2 separate regions of the Homo sapiens genome follow, and region 1 is linked to region 2. Evidence: fine-mapped expression QTL. Tissue or cell type: spinal cord. Region 2 holds a variant in brackets; the other region holds the start of a gene. All regions are shown on one strand. Distances are between the middles of the regions. Region 1 holds the start of ARHGEF28 (Rho guanine nucleotide exchange factor 28). Region 2 overlaps ARHGEF28 (Rho guanine nucleotide exchange factor 28).

What was found.
Region 1: it holds the start of ARHGEF28, and the variant in region 2 is fine-mapped to the expression of ARHGEF28 in spinal cord (GTEx, PIP above 0.99).

Annotation. Positions count from the first base shown.
Region 1 is chr5:73,620,508-73,632,645 of GRCh38, reverse strand. It overlaps ARHGEF28 (Rho guanine nucleotide exchange factor 28), which reads right to left and starts at 6,450. Exons shown (of 36, transcript NM_001177693.2): 1 at 6,324-6,450. RefSeq lists a silencer at 6,652-6,741.
Region 2 is chr5:73,649,464-73,661,601 of GRCh38, reverse strand. The region is part of intron 1 of ARHGEF28 (Rho guanine nucleotide exchange factor 28); the gene reads right to left. Among named protein-coding and RNA genes, the nearest start is that of ARHGEF28, 29 kb to the right of the region's middle. The variant T/C (reference allele first, on the strand shown) is at 6,530.

The sequences.
Region 1 (12,138 bases), 29 kb after region 2:
GACTTGAAGGTAGGATATATAATTAATTTTTTTAAATGTTAGAGGCTACCATATAAGAGAAATTGTTCAGAATGGCCTCCACATAGCAGAACTGTGACAAACTTAGGATAAGGGAGAATTGTTTTTAAAAGTCTAAGCTTTCCAAATAGATGGATTATCTTTATGGTCATGAGGTCCTCATCACTGAAGGTATTCAAGGACAGACTGGTCAACCATTTGGAGATAGGCCATGCAGGGGAATTGTGCACCTTCTGGAGACTAGAGAAAAACTTTTAGGTTTCTTTCAATCCAAAGACTCAGATTTTAATCAAGAATTTCATTCATTTCCCCATGCAGGTTGATACAGTTTCCTCAGAGAGGTCCATGAGGTCTCCCATTTACATCTGGGAAGGACTAACTGTCTAATTCCTGAGCAAACTTTGCCCTCCTCCCCCTGTACCCCAGTGTTTTCCAACGCAATCCACATCGGATACCCAGGAAAACACCACCACTAGTACTTGCAGTGGTGCTGCAAACAAGAAGGACTTGAGACGACAGTTAGCAAAATAACTAAATAACTGACCAACACGTGTATATTCTACTTTGAGCACCCTACAAAGTAGCCTAAATCAGGGTCCCTGTCATTAATGGGCTACAGTCACGATGTAAAGTTGAGACTTATATACAGGAACACAAAATGAACCCAGGGACAGGTGGTAAGTAAAAAATGAGAGGGTGGTAGGAGTTCAAAAGGGAAAGCAGCACAGTTGCTACTAAGTTAGTTGAAGGTTACAGGCAGAAAGTGGTTTAAGCTGGGCTTTGAGGACTGCAATACTTGTTGGCAAGGGAGGAAAAGGGGCCCACTAGGAAAAAGTCAAAGAAGTCAGAAACACACAACATGTTCCATAGGCAGTACTAGTCCTGGCTAACAGAACTGGAGAGTTCACAAGGGAGAAACAGCAGGAGGCAGTTGACACACCAACAGCATAACAGTAACACCATGAGAAATAGCAGGTGTTACCCTTTCCCTAGGCACTGTGCAATGTAGGAAGCCAGAAACACCTAAAGATTAGGAAAGTAGCTATCAAACCCAGCTGTACATTAGAATCACCTCTTTAGAAAATGATGCCAGGTCCACTTGAGAGATTCTGAACCCAGGTGGTTCCAGTGAACAACAGGGCTTGAAATCCTGGGTTAGAGGCTCAAAGTAAAGAACCCATAGTCAGTAGTCTCATTAATCACTGAATATCCTCTACCTTTCAGAACTCTAACACCTGATCATACAGCAAACCAGGAGGCTGGTGAAGCAAGAAAAGGAGAAGCACTGTTGAAAAAGAACCAGTGACAATGTACAGACAGTAAATCAGGGTCTTAGTGGGAAAAGACAAAAATATAAGCCCCCGAGGGACTTTGTCTGAACCATCCAGCCCAATGAAACCTCTTGCTTTTCACCATACTTAAAAGTCCTTCATGAGACTTCTTTGCCTGATAGAAATTATTTTTATCATAAAATTAAACAGTCAGCCCACTTGTCTTTCCTCTTTCCAGAGCTATACCACCCCTCTTCTACATGAGGGGTTCTTCAGAAGAAGAGGACTAGGGCAGCCATATGGCCCACACAAGGAATCTGGACTTGCATGTCTGAAATCTCTTTGGACTAAGTCCAGGAAGATAACTCCAAGTCATTTAAACCTGATGACTGTCTGGTAGTCAAGGAGAGATAAGGAATAAGAGTGACAGCTCATCATCTATTCAAATGCCTATTGCAGGCACAATGCTAACCTTTTAGACAGTACCTTTCCAGTAGTGTTGACCAAGACAAGTAAAGCAAATTGACAAATACATCACATTCACATTCAATTCATCAAGACTGAGTAGAATGTTAAAAAATGGGTTGCTCTTAGAGGTCATCCAGTCTAATCCTTTCCATTTTACTGGATGAGGAAACTGGGACCAGATAGGGTTCCAGTAGGAATATTCACCCAAGGTCACAAAACTGGAAAGCCAGAGGACTCCATCCCTTCCTCCAACTCCCAGCCTAGGGCAATTTCTCCTGGGGTCACACTGACATCTCACTACCTTCTGAAAGCTGAAAAACCTGCTACCCTTTTATCCTTTTTAAATGGTTATTTTCCATTTGCTATAACTACAACTTACTCTCTGTCAGGCACTACCAGGAGGGTTCTCTGTAAATTAAATCACGGAGTCCTCACAACAGTTGAAGCAGGTTACTATTATTATCCGCATTTTACAAATGGAAAAACCTGAGGTAGAGAGAGGTCACATAGCCAGGGCAAAGTTGGGGCTATTTAACCCAGACAGTCTGGCTCCAAAGTCCACATTCTAACCCCCTTCATGAGAGTTTATGAAATATAATTTCTTGAATTATAAAATGATGGAAGAAAAGGAGTAAGTCTTAAACAGAAAGGGCATGGTCACTAGTGTTTGATAATGAATTGAAAAGCTAAACCATAAATGTCATTAATATATACAATATACGCTTCATCTATTTATTAAGGGAATGTCTATTATATATATTTGAAGCATATTAACATTTCAAGTGTATATTTTTTAAAGGCACAATGATCATGTGCACAGCAGTCACACAAAGCTTGCCACTAGAAATAGGCAGAATGCTATTTGCCTGCTGGCTTTGGAAAGGTCTCTTCTGAACAGGCTACTATGGAGAGCAAAGCCACCACTGCTGATTTCTGCCTGTTGGTCCTCACTCATAGACACATTTTCATCTGCTCTTAAGAGAACATCGCTTGTATGTTAACTTTCTACAGAAATCAGACCTCGAGTTATTTATAATTGAGGGAAAGATTAAACTAAAACAAGAGAAAACACCTCTGAAAATTAAAATACATTTTTATACAAGTGTTCAAAACCAGTATCACTGGAACAAATGCCCACTATTCAATTATATACTTTTTTACTTTCTCTCATTAAAAAATGATGTCAGATCTCATTATCTTGGTTATCCAGGAGAAGAAGTCCAGGAGCAATAATGTTACAAATAAGCAAATTACTATTGTGCCTGAGATCAAATTTCAAGGGAAAAATGGAAGTCAATTAAGAAGATGCACTATCACATTAAAAAAATAAGTTACATGACTTATTTTGCCAGTCAAATGTCTTTAATTTTTTTTTTTTTTTGAGACAGAGTCTTTTTCTGTCACCCAGACTGGAAATGTGGTGGCACCATCTCAGCTCACTGCAGCCTCTACTTCCCCAACTCAAGCTATCCTCCCCACTCTGCCTCTCAAGTAGCTGGGACTATAGGCACACACCACACACCACCATGCCTGGCTAGTTTTTGTATTTTTTTTGTAGAGACAGGGTTTTGCCATGTTGCCCAGGCTGGTCTTGAACTCCTGGGCTCAAGCAATCCTCCCACTTCAGCCTCTCAAAGTGTTGGGGTTATGTGCATGAGCCACCACCCCCACCCTGGCCAGCCAAATGTCTTAATGTGGAGTGTGCAAAAGTCTACTCCGAAAATGCAACAGACCCTAAAAACTCTAAAGCCAGAAAAGTGTCACCTTCAACACGGAATCCAAAGATCAGAGAATCAAAGCAAAGAGCAGTGCTGGGCACATAGTAAGACTTCAACAAATATTAGTTGAATGAATGTAAATGAAGAACATGTTCATAGAAAGAGAGCCCCATAATAGAGATTGTCAAAATGGCAAAATAGTAGAGTGACACTGCCTTGGGCTTCCGAGAACTTCCAATACCATGATAATAACAAAAGAACTAAGGGTCACAGAGACTGGACAAAATGGCAGAGTATCATACAAATGGAGCAAAATGCTCTGTGATACAGGACCTGACCTACACTTCTTAAGCAAGAAAAATATCTCAAAGCCCAGCTTTGCCTAAGTAGAGATGTGGACTCAAGTCTGACAGGGTGGCATATTTACAGCACAACTTTAGCATGGCAGAATTCCCTGAATTTGGTGCACTTCAAATGTAACACTGTTTTTACATCCTCAGTAGGAGTTGCCCAGGTTGACCCACCTCTTCATAACAAATCTTATTTAAGGTTATGGGCGGGGGCCGGTGGGGGGATCCCAGAGCTACTCTGCTTCACTAAAAGCAACATAAATACAAATGCAATTACACAAAACCTACACAAACCAGATCTGTCATATCTGATTAGTAAATAAAAGCATAATAAAATTATAGTCAGCCTAGGTAATTTAGGCTCTGTTCAGTACCATCCTAGCCATGCCCAAGTGGTGAGGCTTTTCCAACATTTATATCATGAATCTTTTTTTCTTGGAATTCAGTCCTTGGTCATAAACTGGCAGGACTTGTTGGAGCTTGGGTACCAATATAGTGGTGTACAGAATGTTTAATATAGAAGTAATAGTATATGCTGCAATTTGTTTTAATACCTACTTAGAACACATAGTCTTTTCTCACGGGGCATACTAAAGGAGGTCATGTATCAGAGCTCACCTGAAATTCCTGCCCAATTTAAGTCTTAGCCACAAGTGTAGTTTCTTATAAGAACACAATAAGAAAACATTCCAAACTCTTCTGCAGTACTCACATAATTAAAAAAAAAAAGTATGAAACCCACCCAAGTGAGGCTTCTGAGACATTTCATAGAAACTTAGTTATTAACTACTATTTTTCTTCTTTACCTTTAAGTGTTTATAAACTGCTTAAAGGACAGTTGGGTACTTCAGAGGAAAGTCTAATGACACGCCTGCTATACAACCTGTTCTTAGTTGGCCAGATTGTGTGGTTTTGATAAGGAAAAAAAAAAAGTCAAAAGCAGGACAAACACTGATTCTCTGTTCTCCATTCTCCCATTACCCAAGACATTCATCTGAGTCACACACTCTATAGCTAGCTCTGAGCCTCAGTTTCCCTAACCATTAGCTATAAGATCTGATGCTAGCCAAATTCCTATTTGATCAAAGTTAATCAGCCCAATAATCACATATAGAGTCCACATCAGAACATTACATTGAAATACTATGTTGTATTAAAAATTCCAAAGGGTTTTGCCATATTCATCTCTTTTCTGCAAATACTCCAAAGGGGTTACTTTGGCTATTAATCAAGATTAGGCAAATACCCATGTGCTTTAGGAATGTGTAACTAAAAACCCAGGACAGATCTAGAGAAACCTTCCCAGGTTTCCCAGAAGTCATCACTACGCTTGGATTGTCATGTACAAAGTAGATGCCACAGAACCTAACAAGGGTAGGTCCTTGATTTGTTTTTGCAGTGAAAACAGGATTTCACTTACACCTGACAGCTTCAGGGCCTAGGAACACAAGATAACAACGCTTCAGAAAGCCAGGGGCCCCATGGAACCCCAAATGATCAGTTCTTTATAAACGAAAATTAAAGATCTTACTTTCTTTGGATTTTGCCCAATTGGTGTGGTCCGTGGTGAACCTCTATAACTCCTGGTGTGAGGAGATGTGTGGATACCCAGGCAGGGGTCAAGGCGGGAGAAGCCGCACAAACACAGATGTTGCCACTGTTCCTCGGCCCACCCAGCCAACCAATGCGGGGACGCTGTGGGCCTATAGAGATGGATTCTTTCTTAGAAATCTAACTGGTCTCTGGGAAACCAAAGCTGGGTATCCAGGGCCGCCTGAGCACCCAGTTTCCATACAGCCCTCGACCCAAATGGTGCTTTCTTGGCCAAACACCGGCCTGTCATTCGGAAAACCTAAGCACGGGAAGGCTGGGGCACCACCACATACACCCCGGGTATTTAAGGGGAAACAAATCCATAAAATAAGCGTAAGGAGTCCCACATAATTCTGACCACCTTTCCCAACCAAGGTAACCATAAATGCCTTTTGAAACACAGCAGATGCTTCCACACGAGTAAGTGGTAGTGCGTGTGTCCTGAGCTTGCGTTCCGTCTGCATTCTGCGGTCCTGGCCCTGCCAAGCACCCTCAGTCCCGGAGCTGAAGCATGGATGGGAAGGGCGGACACCAACTCTCGACGTTCTCCCTTCTCCACCGCAGGAGTGCTGTTTATTTCCCTGTCTCCCGAAGGACACTGGCGGGGCTTTCACCCGCCCAGCCCCCGGCTCTCAGTGCGCCCGAGCGACCCCGCGCTCCGCAGCTGCCGCCGCCGCACGAGGCTGCGCCGCCCTCTCCACTTGTTGCCGCTCCCGAGGGAGCGGGAGGCGGCGCCCAGCCCTCGCGCCGCAGCGCCTGCAGCGGTTCCCCGGTCACCTCTGCTGACCCTCGCATCCCTGGGGACCCTGGAGAAAGTGGCCCTGCGGATGCGAACTCAGGTGGACAAACTTTTCCGCCCAGAGCTGCAGGGAAACGCAGACGATGGAGTCCCAAAGAGCATTTACCTGGAGCGATGGCCCCGCAGCCTCCAGAACCCAGGCGAGGCTCTGCCCCCGCGCCCTGCCTGAGGGCGCCTCGGAACGCGCCCCCAGCCAGCCGCCGCCCGGAGTCCGGAAGGCTCTCCCCGGCGATGCCAACGCCTGGCGGCGGCCGGGCTGAAGCCAAGGTTTAGGGGGTGGAGCCGCGGCCGCGCGCCCGGGCCCGGCTGGCTGCGCCAGCAGCGGGTGCCGCCCCCGCTCCCCCCGCTCCCCCCGCGCCTCCCCGCTGCCACTGGATCCCCGCCTGCCCACCTCCCGGCCCGGCTCGCGGCGGCCGCATCACATGGCGAGGCCCGCCCGCCGGCCGCGCCCGACACCGGCTCCAGGAGGAAACCTGAAGCTGCCCCTACCGCGCTGTCTCCGCCAGCCCCCTCCCGCTGCGGGGCTGCGGCCGTTGGCCTCCGGAGATCGGAGGCGCGGAGGCTGGCGCGGACCTGGCGGGCCACAGGAGTGCCAGTTGCGCCCCGGGCGCCCCCACGCCTTGGCGCCTCCCGAGGGAGGCGCTGGGCTGCCCGCTCGCGAAAGGAGTTGTGCCAGGCCCGAGGGAGGCTCAGGCTGTTCCCAGCCAAAAGCCACCACACCCGTGACATAATACGGCCCGGGTCTATTACAATAGGAAATATTATTTTTAAAAACAGCATTTGCCCTCTTATTTGAAGCTCATGTTCCCTGGCCGAGAGCTTTGCAAGCTGCGATTCCCTTCACGTTTATGCACGCAAGTGGCTGCAAGTCTTAATTCAAAAACGTATGAAAACCATAACCACTTTTACAATGAACAGCAATGTGAAGGGACTTCCTTATCCTCCAAAGCAGTTTTCCTCTTAGATGTGATGACAGCCCCAAGAGCAGAAGCCAAGCCTCTTCATCAGCCAGGCTCTCATATACAGACTTAAGACCATTATTGCAGCTTTAAAGGTAAAATTGCCCATCTGAGACTGCTGTGGCAGTAAGTGTTATAGTTAAGACTATTTGTAAGGAAATTAGTATTGAAATATAAAGTTTCTAATAAAATTTATAAAATCACCTTGAGTCTCTGCTTTGTTTTTCCTTTGAAGACTGGCTACGCACAGAACCATAACAAAGGTGTGGCCCGAGGAAGCTGGCCACCAAGATCCCAAGCCAGAATGGAGCCCAGCTCCCAGGCTGCCACCACCACTTCTCCTGGGCCTGGGCCTTTTCTGTCTCCCTTCCAGCCGCCACCTTCCCCAGCCCACCTTGCTGATACGAATGCTGAGAAAGGCTGAGATTAGCAAGAGAAAGACCATCGTGTGTCTGAATGCCTTAGCCCTGTTCCAAGGCAAAGGCTGCAATTCCGCCTTGGGAAAGGGACCCCAACACTGGCATTGCACTCCTGACCTGGGCTGTCATCCCAGCTGATTCCACCCTCAGCCCCACAGAGCTGTGAACTCAAGGCCTGGCCTCAGGCGCTGCCACAAAAAAAAAAAAAGAAAAAAAAAATATATATATATATCCTGCCCAGTGTCAAGGTACACAAGATAAAAATAAAAGCAATAATATTCTTTTCAAAAATAGAAAAAATTTTGAGCAGGGCGTGGTGGCTCACACCTGTAATCCCAGCACTTTGGGAGGCTGAGGCGGGTGGATCACCTGAGGTCAGGAGCTCGAGACCAGCCTGGACAACATGGTGAAACCCCGTCTCCACAAAAACACACAATTTAGCTGGGTGTGTTGGTGCGTGCCTGTAATCCCAGCTACTCGAGAGGCTGAGGCAGGAGAATCACTTGAACTGAAGATTAACTGAATCAACATGCCAGACAAAAATGGTTTCCAAACTCTGGTGAATAAACATGGTGATGTGTTAGAAGCCTTTGTTGTTATTGTCCTTTTTCATATCACTAGTACTGAAGCCCTCTTTTTCTTTTTTTTTTTTTTTTAATTCTGGCAGGTATGTATCTTTTTTTAAAAAACAAAAAAATGTGGAAAGAGGAACAAATATTATAAGAAGTTACCCCCAAGCCCCTTCCCCACTAAAAAGAAACCAGCAAAACTAGTAATTGTGAAACTCTCACCACCCAAGGACATACAATGCTAGCTGCAGTTTTCTTGCCTGCTCTCAAGCCCTGAGCTTGATCAATATTTAAATACGTACTTGGCTTTCAACTTCTCTAGGTTCAAATATTAAGCAAAGTGTTTGCTTCAGCAACCTTAAAAGAAGCCGTGACTATCTGAGGCAGGAAGCTATCAGTTGTGTAAATAACCCTTTGCACCTGATTGATTTCACTGCTCCAGATATAGGTCACTCAGGACATTGCTGGCACTAAGCTTGGCTGGGACAGCATTTGTTTTGAATTCAAAGACTATATATTCTCTACAGACAAGGGACATTCAGCCAGCAAGAAACCAGGCTGGCCATTCAGTTAGGGAAATTCTAACTGCCTAGTGAGTATTATGCCAATGTCCTAGCTCAGCTCTGTCTTTTCTAGAGATTCAATCCCCATTCATCCTTACATACTTCACTCCAGATAGACCTCCTCCATAAATCCTTACATTGTCCTGGTTTCTGCTACCCTCTGAATTTTGGCAAAGCATAATGGCCTTACTACACAGTGTAGCACCTGATTATATTAACTGTCACATGTTGGACAACTGTAGGCTCTTATCCTCCCTTCAACTTGAAATTCAAGGACAAAACCTGTTCCTTACCCCTGTAATCTTCACAGTCCCAACACAGGGCATTTCTGGAGTATTTAGTATTTGTTTTTTAATTGAACTATCACATCCATTATGCAAGAAGAAAAATGTCACCATTTTCAAACTTTAATGAATTATAACCACTGCTAATTATATTATCTATTTAATTATTTCCTGGCCTTCATTATATTTCCTTTGTCAATAATTCTCAAAAATTGGATAATTGTAAATCTGATGTTTAGCCACGTGAGTTAGGGAATTACTAGTGTTTCTTAAGTGAAAGCAAGATACTAGAAAATGGTAGATTTAATAGGAGGTGAACAAACTCTGGAATACAAATAGGATGATCTTGGGAAGATACAACCTTTCTAAGCCTCCATTTCCTCATCTGTATAATGGGCATAAGAACAGCATATACTATCATTGTGAGGATTACGTGACTGAAAGTGATTACAGGACACATAATAAGGATGTGGAAAATAGTGGCAGTTAATCTTTTAGTGTATGGTTGTATTAGGAGAACACTTCAGAGCTTTGAGATAATTAATAGGGCATGGCAGACCCCAAGACAAGAAACTATTTCTGGATTATAAACTTGGTTGTCCAGCCTAGGAAGGTCGGAGAACACAGAGAAAAGAGGCCAACATTATTAAAACCAGGGGACAGATCTCATGGGGAAATCCACACAGTAGTTCTCATTCTGGCTACACATTAGCATCACCTGGGAAGCTTTAAAACAATCTTGATTCCCAGAACGCCCACCTGATCAATCATTCGGAATCTCCAGAAAATTGGGCCCATGTTATTGGTCGTTTTTTGAAAGCTCTCCAGGTGATTCCAATGTTCAACCAAAGTTGGGAACCACTGGACTAAAGGAACTGAATGTATTGACACTGGAGGAGGGTGAGGATCGCACTCAATTATATGTGGTTAAGGGGAATCAGCTCTTCCATTTCCAATGTTAAACCATCAGGTTTAAATTGCAGGTGAGCAGGGCTTCCGTGTAATCTGCATATGAGTCACTTGGGGATCTTGTTAAAATGCAAATTCTGACTTAGTAGCAGATGGAGTCTGATATTCTTCATTTCTGATAAGTTTGAGTTGGGGCTGAGGCTACTGGTCTGTGGACCATACTCTGAGGAGCGAAATAATAGATTTAGAGAGAAATATTCAGATTTGTTACAGGAGAAGTCTTAACATCTCTGAATATTTTTAATCAACTGATATTTATTGAGCACCAACTATGCAAAAAATTAATATTTTGCAATCTTTGAAGAAAATAATAGGTTGTTTTTAGCCAGTTTTCAGTATGAGGTCTTCCCTAAAGGGGCAACTTACCTGTCAGGTATAGCAAGCTCAGTGCCTAGGGTCTATAATACTTATAGGGGCCAAAAAATATTTTAATTTCTTTTAAAATCAGAAGAGAAAAATGAACTTTTAGGTCAAAGAAAATGTTTTAGCATATAATATTAATATATTTGTATCTATAACAATGCAATAGTGAAATATAATTTTTCTTTTTATCTACATTTTTATTTTTCTGGAGGAAGGTGCGTATGAAGGCAAAAGTGCCCAGATCCTACAAAAGTCATAATGCAGCTATGTTCTTGAAGTCCATATTAGTCTCAGGTATTTTTAGGAAAGCACATGGAACTCATTGTGGCTGATATTTTCATGTTGGTATTTACATGAGCAAAAGGAAGATATTGGGGAAATTATAAATACGCCTTTTGAGTGGAGCCAGCCCAATAATTATGAAGAGTTCAACACTTTCCACGTGTGCAATTTGGAAACACTGGGGATGCTCCATTGACAAAACATTGTTTCTTTTCAGCTGATTCCTTAGGGTCTAAAATTCTATCACTAGAGATTTACTCCACCTCCAGAGCCAGTCTCTAGAGATTCACATTATTGAGACCCTTCCTTTGCATATTGACCTTTTTTTTTTTTTTTTGAGACAGGGTCTCACTCTGTCACTCAGGCTGGAATAAAGTGGTGCAGCTGCACCTCACTGCAGCCTCAATTCCCAGGCCCAAATAATCCTCCCACCTCAGCCTCCCAAGTAGCTGGGACCACAGGCATGTGCCACATACCTGGCTATTTATTTATTTTTGTTGAGACGGGGTCTCCCTATATTGCCCAGGTTGGTCTCAAACTCCTGGCGTCCAGCAATCCTCAGTCCTCCCGCTTCTGCCTCCAACTCCCAAAGTGCTGGGATTACAGGTGTGAGCACTGCGCCAGGCCTGACCTTCTTTTAGGTGCAATTTTTTACCCGCTAGAGCCAGGACCATACCTCAAGAACTTCTCAGGGGATTCACTCTGAAAAGAGGAAAATATAATAAAGAGATTCCATTTTATAGGAAACACCAATTCTATTCAGTTCCTAAATACTGAGATGTGGCCATTTGTAGCTAAAGGACATCACCATTGTCACTGTTCAATGCAGTAACCCCAACAAAAATTACTGACTCTTTCACTATCCACTATGGTAACTATTAGCCTCATGTGGCATTTAAATTTATTAAAATTAAGTAAAATGAAAAATTCATTTCCTCATTGCAGTAGCCACATACTGAGTGCTCAATAGCCACATGTTCCCATTGGACAGCACAGATCAAGAATATTTCCATCATCAGAGAAAGTTCTGTTGCACAGTCCTGTTTCAAAGGGCTTTGGGTAGAGAGGGAACCACCCTTCCTGAACATCCTGAAACACAAGGGTAGTTTGGGAAGTATTTAGACTCTAGCCCAGACACATTTTTTTCTTTCCACCTGTCAACCGATCCACAGCTACATAGACAATCAGTTACTCTGCTCCTTTCTAAACCTTCCAAACCAAAATTTCTAGGAAATCACCTTTTGGCTATATCTCCTGGCCTTTCAGAGAGCCAGACCTTTTTGACTTGTGAAGGGCTAGTAACTGCAGAGGTTTTTCTTAGGATCTAGAACAATCTTCATCTCAGAAAGTGAATATTTAGATCACTGCTTTTTCTTGCCAAAATGGCTCCAGGTATCCTCAAGTTGTAGCCAACTTCTTAAATTTTAAAACAACTCAAAGGCCCCTTTTTGATCTCCAGGACATAACTGTACAAGGCAGGCCAGCTGGATAATGTTCCAAATGCATGGTTTGT
Region 2 (12,138 bases):
AGAGTTGCATGTCTCTCACTTCAAATCAAAAGCAAGAAATTATTGAGCTTAGTGAGAAAGGCACATCAAAAGCCAAGATAGCTGAAAGCAGGCCTCTTGTGCCAAACAGTCAAGGTGTGAATGTGAAGGAAAAGTTATTGAAAGAAATTAAAAGTACTTCTCCAGGAACACACGAATGATAAGAAAGTGAAACAGCCTTATTGCTGATACGGAGAAAGTTTGAGTGGTGTGGATAGAAGATCAAACTAGATACAACATTCCCTTAAGCTAAAGCCTAATCCAGAGCAAAGCCCTAACTCTTCCATTGTATGAAGGCTAAGAGAGGTAAAGAAGCTGCAAAAGAAAAGTTGGAAACTATCAGAGGTTGGTTCATGAGGTTTAAGAAGCCATCTCCAGAACATCAAAGTGCAAGGGAAGCAAGTTCTGATGTAGACTCTGCAGCAAGTTATCCAGCCAATCTGGCTAAGATCATTGATGAAGGTGGCTACAGTAAACAACAGATTTTCAGTGTGGACAAAACAACCTTTTTTTGGAAAAAGATGTAATCTAGGACTTTCATAGGTAAGGAGGAGGTGTCAATGCCTAGCTTAAAAGCTTCAAAGGACAGGCTGACTCTCTCATTAGGAACTAATACAGCTGGTGACTTGAAGTTGAAGCCGATGCTCATTTACCATTCCAAAAGTCCTAGGGCCCTTAGGAAGTATGCTAAATCTACTCTGCTTGTGCTCTATAAACAGAACAACAAAGCCTGGATGACAGTACATCTTCCTACAGCATGGTTTACTGAATATCTTAAGGCCATTATTGAGACCTACTGCTCAGAAAACAGATTTCTTTCAAAATATTACTGCTCACTGACAATGTACCTGGTAACCCAAGAGCTCTGATGGAGATGTACAAGGAGATTAATGTTGTTTTTATGCCTGTCAACATAATATTAATTCTGCAGCCCAAGGATCAACGAGTAATTTTGACTTTCAAGTCTTATTATTTAAGAAATGCATTTTGTAAGTACAGTTGCCATAAATAATGATTAATCTGATGGATCTGAGCAAAGTAAACTGAAAATCCTCTGGAAAGAATTCACCATTCTAGATGTCATTAAGGACATTTGTGATTCATGGGAGGTCAAGATAGCAACATTAACAGGAATTTGAAAGAAGTTGATTCCAACCCTCGTGGATGACGTGGATGAGGGTTTGAGGGGTCCAAGGCTTCAGTGAAGGAAATAACTACTGATATGATGGAAACAGCAAGAGAATTAGAATTGGAAGTGGAGCGATAAGATGGGACTGAACTGCTGCAATCTCATGATCAAACTTGAGTGGATGAAGAGTTGCTTATTATGGATGAGCAAAGAAAGTGGTTTCTTGATATGGAAACTACTCCTAGTGAAGATGCTGTGAACGTTGTTGAAAAGACAACAAAAAATTTAGAATATTACATAAACTTAGTTTATAAGGCATAGGCAAAGTTAAGAGGATTGACTCCAGATTTGAAAGAAGTATTACCATGAATAAAATGCTATTTCAAACAGCATCACATGCTACAGAGAAATCTTTCATGAAAGGAAGAGTCAATCAATGCAGCAAACTTCATGACTGTCTTATTTTAAAGAGCCACCCCAACCTTCAGCAACCACCAAACTGATCAGTCAGCAGCCATCAACATCAAGGCAAGACTCTCTACCAGAAAAAAAAAAATTGACTTACTAAAGGCTCAGATGATCCTTAGCATTTTTTGGCAATAAAGTATTTTTAATTAGGTATTTACATTTTTTAGACATAGTGCTATTGTATTCCTAATAGACTACAGTATAATTTAAACATAAATTTTATATGCACTGGAAAACCAAAAACCTCATGTGACTCATTTTATTGCAATATTTCCTTTATTGTGGTGATGTGGAACTGAAATTGTAATATCTTCAAGATATGCCTGTATAAGGTCATTACTTAATCAGTACTTTTTCATCACATTAATAGGACTAACTTTTAGTTCATCTTAACCCCACTACCAACATACACATGTACATGCACTCACAAACACATAACAAACTTTTTTTTTTTTTTTGAGACGGAGTCTTGCTCTGTCACCCAGGCTGGAGTGCAGTGGCCGATCTCGGCTCACTGCAACCTCCACCTCCTGGGTTCACACCATTCTCCTGCCTCAGCCTCCCAAGTAGCTGGGGCTACAGGTGCCCGCCACCATGCCCAGCTAATTTTTTGTATTTTTAGTAGAGACGGGGTTTCACCGTGTTAGCCAGGATGGTCTTGATCTCCTGACCTCGTGATCTGTCTGCCTCGGCCTCCCAAAGTGACATAACAAACTTTTACCTATCTTGTTCACTAGTGCTTTAAGTTCATATTCTGTACTACGTGATAGTTAATTAACTCAGTGATATAACCCAAGTTAATATGACAGTGAGTAGTAATGAGTTTAAAATCTTGATCTTTCCTACCAGCAGCCTATACCTTGATTCAGAACACTGACTCAAAGATGGGAACACAGAAGGCAGTCAGTATACAGAGTTTGGGGCAAGCAGGCCTATTAGCCAAGTTACAAGAAATATACAGTCCCCTGCCTGTGAGTGTGGTGTGTGTGTGTGTGTGTGTGTGTGTGTGTGTGTGTGTGTGTGTACCTGCATGCATCACAGACCTGTCTAGGTATGTGGTCTATACATTTATATTACACATTTGTGAAGAAAAACTCATTTCAGATGAGAATGTACAGAGCACCTAGTAAAACACAGATACTATGCAAAATTCCCCAGATGTGGAATGTGCCTAGCAAAACTCAATTATAATCAGTGATTTATTGCTAGATAGTCTATAATACCAATGCTAGACTAAATCCACTGTACAATTCTCTGTCATGAGCTCACACCAGGTTATGTTCTGCCAATTCAGTTACACCTAACTGCAATATTTTTTTTAAAAGAACCACAGTGGTGCTTTCAGTTTTCCTCCATCCTTAAGATCCCACCTCACTCTGAACAGAAGATATCACTCTCTACTTTGAAATCAACATTTTTCATCAACTGGTCACAGGTTAGGCCTTTGAAACTCTTCCTTTCTGGCTCTGCATCTATTCCCTCCATCCATCTCTTCTCCTTCCTCTTGTGGCCGAATCCCATTCATTCCTAATAGCTGAGGGACTGTGTGCCTACAATAGTCCCTTCTTCTCTGGTGTGTTCAAATCCTCCCTTTTCAGTGTTACCCTCCCCTTCTACCCTGTGCTTGGCACTGGAAATTCTAAGGTGAGTAAGACAGGTCTCTGCCATCAGGAATTCTTAGTCTATCAGAAGAAGCACAGGGCGAAACAGCCAATGCCAGGTAATGAACATTAGAGTAAAGAGAAGAAATGGGGTGACAGGAGAGGGACTAATCCTGCCAGGAGTGGGCAGGGTGAGCTTGCAGAAGGACTTGATAAAGATTTGTTAATTGAGTTTTTTTTTTTTTTAAAAAAAGGACTTCCTTTCTACCCAAATAATGGATTGAATAACATGAGAACCTTATTGCTTGAAGCATTGGATGGACTCTGTTTCAGAATTACTTAAATGCATAGTTGCGCTCTCCCAAGAAAGCAAGGGAGCACTCCCAAAGTCATAAAATAAAGACTCATTGAAAAACAGAGTGATGTCCTACGAAGAATCTTTGCCTGAAGTGTTTTAATGGTCTCAGCAGCCCAGAAGATTGGGTTTAATGGCTACTGAGGGAAGGGGAGACATCTTGCCCATGTGTGGTAAGGAGTTAGAACTAAATAAGGCAGTACCCCCAAAGGGCCATGTCTTTATTCAAATAATGATAATAGAAAAATATGACCAGTAGCCAAAGGAAAAAACAAGAAATGTTTCTGGTCTCAGCCTAAGTCTTTGATGAGTGAGGAAAGAAGGGTTCCCTGGAGCCCTTTAACTGAAAAATTAACATATAAAATGGTTCCATACTGGTAATGCATTTGGGGTTAACTCACAATTACAGGACTCCCCCAGTTAAAGTTTCATTGGACATAGGCTCACCATTCAATATTATGAAACACTTGACAAAACTATCCATCATGAAAAAGACAGTACAAACAACAGGCCCTTTAGAACTTCAAATGATAGACTGATCGAATATTTTGTAAAATAACTATGTTTAAATAAAGATGTTAAAAAATAACTCAAAGCATCAGAAAGGAACAGGCCAACTTGACAAAGAACCAGACAGAACTCCTAAAAATAAAAGTATCGTGTATGAAATTTCACTGGACAAGTTAAAAAGCAAAGAAGAAAAGTGAAAATGTCAGTAATATATTGGAATTTGAATCTTGGAAATTACCCAGAATATAGCACAGAGCTAGAGAAGGTGAAAAATGGGAAAGAGATGCTAAGAAATATGAAACATGCAATTGAAGAGTCCAACATTCTTTTTTTTTTTTTTTTTTTTTTGGGACGGAGTCTTGCTCTGTCACCCAGGCTAGAGAGCAGTGGCGCAATCTCGGCTCACTGCAAACTCTGCCTCCCAGGTTCTCCCCTTTCTCCTGCCTCAGACTCCCAAGTAGCTGGGACTACACGTGCCCGCCACCATGCCTGGCTAATTTTTTATATATTTTTTAGTAGAGACAGGATTTCACCATGTTAGCCAGGATGGTCTCCATCTCCTGACCTCGTGATCCACCCACCTCGGCCTCCCAAAGTGCTAAGATTACAGGCATGAGCCACCGCGCCCAGCCTCCAACATTCTTTTTATAGGAGCAGCAAGAAGGCCAGTATGTCTGCAGCAGAGTGAAGTGGAGAGTAATAGAAGATGAAGACACAGAGGAAAATGAAGGATCTATTATGCAAGGCCTTGTAGGTCCTCCTAAGGACGTTGACTTTTCTTCTGAGTATGCAGAGGATCCATTTGAGGGTTCTGAGCTGAGTGACATAATCTGACAGACACACAAACAGGATCATTCTGACAATAGTCACAGGCAGACTAAGAGGGATCAAGGGTAGATGCAGGAGGATGTGCTTAGATGCAGTTGCCATAATCTAGGGAAGAGATGATGGTGTCTGAGATTTGAGGGTAGCAAAGTGCTGGTGAGAAGTAACTGGCTATATTCTGAAGGGAGAGCCAATAGGATTTCCTGACAATTTGGCAGTGGGATATGAAAGAAAGAGAGACAAAAATCTCCCAAGTTTGACGTCTGAGAAAATAATGAAATTGCCACTAGCAGAGATAGGGAATGACACAGATGGTACAGATTTGGGAAAGGAAACCAGGAATTCTGTTTTGGATGGAAATCAGTAACTCAGTAAGTTTGAGGTGTCCACATGTGGCGAGCTGCCTCCTGGATACCAAGATATACAGATCTGGGCTTTATTCTGCCCACCAAATCCTTTACTGAGGTACTCTCTTGCCAAAGCACACGTAGGAACAAGAAAAGAGGTAAAAAGGAGGAAGATTAGAGACCATTCTCGCCCTTAAGGATGTTGAAATCTGAGAAGGGAAGAAGGGAGGCTTTTCGGCACCTATTGCAGAGCCTGAGCTGGAACAGCAGGTGCTGCCTTGCTCATCTGACACTTGGAAAGGTATCAGCAGCAAAACAAGATGGGGACATTCAAAAACTGGTTCTTAGAAACAAAAACATACTGCCATGTTGACCATCTGGTTCCTGGCTACAGCAGACAAAACACTTAGTGACAACATAAGAAAATGAAACCACATCAACCATTTTGTGAGAAAACCGCCCCCAAACTCTTCCCTTTTACAGTTCAGTTCTCCGGGTAGAATTTGGCCTTCAGGGCTATTTTCTTTGGAAATCATGATTATTTTCCAAAGAAAAACATGTTCAGGTTTTCTAATGGTCAAGGAAGAGGGCTAGACTAAGAACTGGGCGGCCCAAATTACCCCTGGCTCCCTGTGGACCAGCCCAACCCTGCTGTGCCTCGTGACTTGGTTTCTCAATGTGTAAATACTGCCACAGGGAAAAGAATATTTTCCACTGCCTACACACAGAACTTTGTTGAGGGTTAATGAATTAGTGTGTATAAAATACTATGAGCTACTCAAATAAAGGGACAATGAAATTCTATTCTTAGTGTTAAGGACAGAGCAATTTTAACCCTCTTCTTACAAACCCCACTGGAAATTAGACTAAGATACCAGGAGTTCTCTTGCATGGGCCTATGCAGATAAAAGGAGATAATGTGTTAAAGGTCTCTGTGAAGTACAGTTCCAATGTAAGGATATGTAGAAATAATTTCTCAAGATAAAACACAATATTAAACAGGTCAAAAATCATTAAAAACTACCAAGAAGCTGTCACTCTTGTAAGTCTCCACATAAAGGTTAAACATGTTGACCTGTGAACCATAGTTAGGCCAAACTCCTAGTTGTTGTGCAAGCTCAGAGCATGACAAACCCAAGGAGAAAATATGGACTTTTGTTCAAGAGCCATAGAATTGAGCACATTGTAAAAGCTGTCCATGAAAAGAGCTTTGTTGAAGGCGTTATTCCTCATTTTCTAAATGCTGTCCAGCTCCACTAAATGGTGACAATTAACA[T/C]TGAAGTGAATAGGCCACTGTACAGATTCTATTCATAATCCAAATAGACAGTTTTCCTTGCCCAATGAGATTTTACATTAGTATTCAAACAACCTTTCATTTTGTCTAAATCCTGGCTCAGAACATGCCAAAGACCAGATGAATGCACCATCTGGAGGCAGAATCTCTCCCTGACAGAGCAAGGATGTGCTTAGATTACTGTGAACGTCAGGTTTTCACATGCCTTGACTTTTCATTTCAGAAAAAAAAGGAGTGGTAACTAGAAAATGATCAGACACACAAGGGGTAGAAACAAGCAATGAGCTAAACCTGACACCATGATGAATCTGTATCTGGATGAAAGAGATGACTGAGTTCATTCTGGCAGCATTTCACTGGGTGGGCCAGCATAATTATGCCACTGTGTTCACCTGAGGCAAGAAAAGTCTGATGACTTCCCCAAGGTCAATGAGTTCTAATCCCCATCTGCTAATGACTCATGGTGAATTCCAGATTTCTGGTTCCGTGTTTACTGCACACAGACACTAATCTCCTGACTGGTCCCCCCACTTTCAGACTTTCAGCCCCAGCTCTCTCCAGGCCATGAGGCCCACGACTAAAGATTCAGCTTCTAAAAATGCTGCTCTGGGTGCCTAGCCCACTCCCCTACTGCCAATCTCTCAGTGGCTCCTAGAGAGGAAAGGCCTCTCCCTGTACCTGCCATTTGAGGCTGGTGTTGAGAGCCCCTCGAGTGCCTCAGGCCATGCTTCCTTCCTGGTTTCTCCAGAGCAGACATTTATGGGGTTCTGGTTGTCTGGCATCCTTCCCTTTTTTCTGCTAGCACCTGGATCTCCCTTCTGGGGAAATCCCCCATTGTGAATAGCACTGACAGGAAGTAGGATCCCATTGTCCTTACAGAAGCCAATGGGATTTCATTGTCCCTCTCCCTGCCCCAGTGCAGCCAGGGGCTGGTACATGACTAGGATGCTTAAGCAGGGGTCCACTCTTAAGCAGATAATAACTTAAGCACCCTAACTTAAGGAGAGAAGTTAGGGTGATATTTAGACACCAAAAAGTCTATTTATGTTGTTTGCACCCAAAATGGCTGAAGCACTCTATGACTGAGGCCCCTTTCTTTCATACACCTTTTCTATGCAAACTCATTCTACCCAGGGTGGCCGATTGAGTATCCCTGCATACCACATATACACTTCCACCTCTGTGCTATCTTCCTGGAAAACACAGAGTAGAAGTGCCATGACGGGGGGGAACAGAGGGCAGGAATGCCAAACCTGGTCCAAGGGCTGGAAAGGAGCTGTAGGGGAAGCCCAGAGGAGACTGGATGTTGTGCTTAGTTTTGATGGATGAACACAGTTAGCTAGGCTAAAGGGAAGGACAGATAGGGGCTATAGAGAGGAGGCACATTTCAGCACCTTCCAGCACATGCATGGAGCACAGAGAACATGTGAAACTCTGTGCAGGAGTTGATATTCCTTCCATGTAGCTATGTGCAAGACACAAGGAGGCAGAAGCTGAGACGAGAGACATAAGCAAGGGTCTCCTCACTAGGCACCTTGCATGCTGCACTGAGGACAGGAATCTCCATCCCGAAGTTAAGAGAGCCTTAGAAGAAGCATAAGCATATATCCTCAAACTCCTACCAGAGATCAAACTTCTGCTTTTCCTAATTAGTTTCTTGAAATTACTAATATTCACTCAATATACTCGATATACAGACACCTCCATAAAATACGGTGTAATATTCAGCCAAGACACTTGCTTTGAACTCATTCCAAAATAATTTAATTTTGTATATGTAACCTGAAAATCAACCCCTCACATCGCTGAGCAAAGCAAGAAGTAGAAGTAGCTGCAGTGTGCCCAAGTGTCAGGTGTGGGAAGAACCAAGGCAAGAAACAGTCATGCACACTTGGAGCAGGGCCCCTCACTCTGCCTCTAACTGGATGTGTGGCGCTGGGCAAGTTGTTTAACCTCCTTAAGCCTCAGTTTCCTTATCTGTAAAATAGAGCTATTGACCAACAGCTACAAGACCATTAGGCTGATGATGCCAAATGTATGTAAAGTACCTGATACACATTAACTACACACTGACGGCATCTTTCTTTCCAAGAAGTAGTTCCCTTAACAATGGAAGATGTGTCCCTTGCACCCTGAGGCATCACTGAAAAACCAATGGTCCAGGAATGAGGAGATTTGGGTTCCTCCATCTGCCCGTTTTCTAACTGTGTGATACTGAGAGGTCACTCAACCACTTGAAAGCTCAGTTTCCCCATCTGTAAATTGGGGATAATAATCATTGGCCACTCCTGGACATACAAGGATTAAGTGAGATCTGTGGAAGCTTTAAAGGATTCCAGATGTATAACATATTATTACTGCCAAATATCTGTGTACTTATAAATGACCTTTTCGGAGCAATATTTCTGACACCACCTTTGAATTTCCAGTTCAACCACTTTCCTCATGTCACTCATAAACCTACAAAGACTCTTTATTTCTTATTATGCTTCTCAACTGTTTGGCTTCCAGCCCTCCTGAATGTGGCCCCACCCTGCCTAGCCCCTAATGCTATTTCCTTCTGCTCCCCCAAATGTGCATACCGTGCCCTCTCATGTCCCACACTCATTCCCACTCCTGCTCCTTTGCTCATGCTGGTGCTCCTGCCCAAAATCCCACAGACCCTCTCTCTCTATGAATAGCTAAATCCTAAAACCTGCCTCACTTCACTTCCTCCATGAAGCCCTCTCTGATGAGTCTATAGCAGTAAGAATTTTCTGCTAGTTCTAAACTCCTCATCAGACTTTTAGTTGCCATTATATGACTTGACTAACTTCTCTAATTATTTACTTTCCACTAGTGTGACCTTCTCAACTAGATAATAAGCTTCGTGAGGGAAGAGATCATATTGTCTTTTATATACCCCATTCCCTAGCACTTAAAAATAGTTACAACATAGAGAAGGAGAACATGGACTGGCAGTTCTCAAACCTCTTTGCAACCCCAAAACTTTTATCCTCAATTTATCTCCACAAACCTTTAACAAGCACTTACTCTGCACTTGAGGCCCAACGGAACCAAAATGAGGTAACTTCACAGGTCTCCGAAGCCTGAGAAACAAACAGGTCAATGACAAACAACAGAGCATGGTAGCTGGGCCTAGGATGGTTGTGGCATCAGATTCTGACTCAGACTTGCCATTGACAACCATAGTTAAAACAGAATTGCCTCTCCCCTTGCAAGAATTGAGCCATAAGTTCAGACAAAGATATACTTCACGAGTTATAAGAAAAATGTTGGAAATAGCCTAAAAGTCCCACAATGAGAATAATACAGAAACAGATAATTGTATATATAGTCACTGAATATGATCATTTTTAAAGGGCATTTAATAACATAAAAAAATTAGTAATGTAAAAAGTGAAAAATAAAAGATTTTCAGTGTATACACTAGATGATCTCAATTGTGTTCACAAGAAATAACAACAAGCTGTCATTGACTGCAGGTTTTCTACACACCAGGCCCTATATGTTAGCACTTCACAAAGTAAAAGCAACAAGAATAGCTTGGGAGACATATTAACATTCCCCACAATCTCTACCAGCTTTCCCTAAATAATCAATCTAAGTAAAACAACATGTTTGGTTTCAAAACAAGATCTTCTAATGCAATGATTTTCCCTCCATTATTGCTATCTGGAAAATCTGGAGTTGCTTCAACATAGTGTAAGTATTCTGCACAACAATCCATAAATAATGTTACTATTCCCACTTTATGAATGAGAAAACAGACTGGGGTCCAATGTCACCAGCTAAAACACAGTCGAGCTGGTAAGTAAGCCCAAGTCTATCTCACTCCAGAGCTCATGACCTGGACCACACCTCCAAGAGCATTTTCCATTCCCTTCTTCTTAGGCTCAACCAAACCCAGTGACTGTTAAAACCCCACATATGTAAACAGGTCAGAGCTGAGTTCTCACGAAATCTTACCCAGTTCAAGCCCCCATTCTAATTTTCCTAAATGTCTAAGAACTAATTGTAGCATTTGTCTTTTGAAAGTACTTTGGTCTCTCAGAGTTTCTACTATTAATTCCTCCAAGCACTAGTTGTTGGGACACGTTTACAAAAGCTTTTTCTTTGGATACATCAGAAGGTATTTATAACTTTGGGAGGCTGAGGTGGGTGGATCACTTGAGGCCAGGAGTTCAAGACCAGCCTGACAACATGACAAAACCCTGTCTCTACCAAAAATACAAAAAACGAGCTGGGCATGGTGGCACATGCCTGTGGTCCCAGCTACTTAGGAGGCTGAGGTGGGAGGATCGCTTGAACCCGGGAGGCAAAGGTTGCAGTGAGCCGAGATTGCACCACTGTACTCCAGCCTGGGCAACAGCCTGGGTGATAGGGTGAGACATTGTCAAAAAAAAAAATTAAGAAGAAGGAAGAAGAAGCCTATGTATACAGGTAATTTCCATCATTAGAAAACATCTCTCAGCTGGGCGCGGTGGCTCACACCTGTAATCCCAGCACTTTGTGAGGCCGAGGCTGGCAGATCACGAGATCAGGTGTTCAAGACCAGCCTGGCCAACACAGTGAAACCTCATCTTTACTAAAAATACAAAAATTAGCTGGGTGTGGTGGCATGCGCCTGTAGTCCCAGCTACTCAGGAGGCTGAAGAGGGAGAATCACTTGAACCCAAGAGGCGGAAGTTGCAGTGAGCTGAGACCATGCCATTGCACTCCAGCCTGGGTGACAGAATGAGACTCCGTCTAAAAAAAAAAAAAAAAAAAAAAAAAAGAAAGAAAGAAAACATCTCTCAGGTGATGAACGGGCCAGATTCCAATGCCTATAAGTGGATTACTTGCAGCTCTAAAACAAGCATACACACTACAGTAGACCAGCTTACATGAGCCACTTTAACTCATATCCTGTCCCATGAGTACTGTCCTAAGCAGCATGTTTAGCCGTGTTTCCCAGGAGAATCAGGGTTCCTGTTTAAGAATTCCAAGAACATACTTTCTCCTGACACAACCCTGGCAGTGGGATTACACTTCTCCCTCTCCCCACATACACAGAGCTATGGAAACCAGGACACCCAATCAGGTGAGAAAAAGGACTTGGGCACAGGTTGCCACAGTGTGGGAAGAGGGACTCTGAGGGTCTCCCCTTAATGGTCTGTCCCCACTTTATTGCAGAGGGACGAAGGGCTCGCCCACCAGCCTCCTTTCTTTGCCACCACTCACTGTGCCAGCCCGTCTTTTCTCTGGCTACTTGGGCAATGGAGGAACAGATTTCTGTCCCAGTTTCTCCATTACCCTGCTATTCCTCCTGAAGCAAGCACACACTCCCTTCTGATATTTTTTAGACTCTTTTCCCACTGGTAACAAGTGGCAACATACAACAGAAATAACAAATAAGGGTAAAACAGTATAACTAAATAAAATTAATATGGAACCAAAGAGTAGGTTCAAGTACACAGAACTCACTTTACTCACTAGGAGCATGCCCCTGGGCAAGTAATCTCATGTCTCTGAGCTCCAATTTCGTGATTGATAGAACAAGACAGTCAAACCACCTTATGGCTACAGCTTCTTCATCTTAAAAAGGGCCA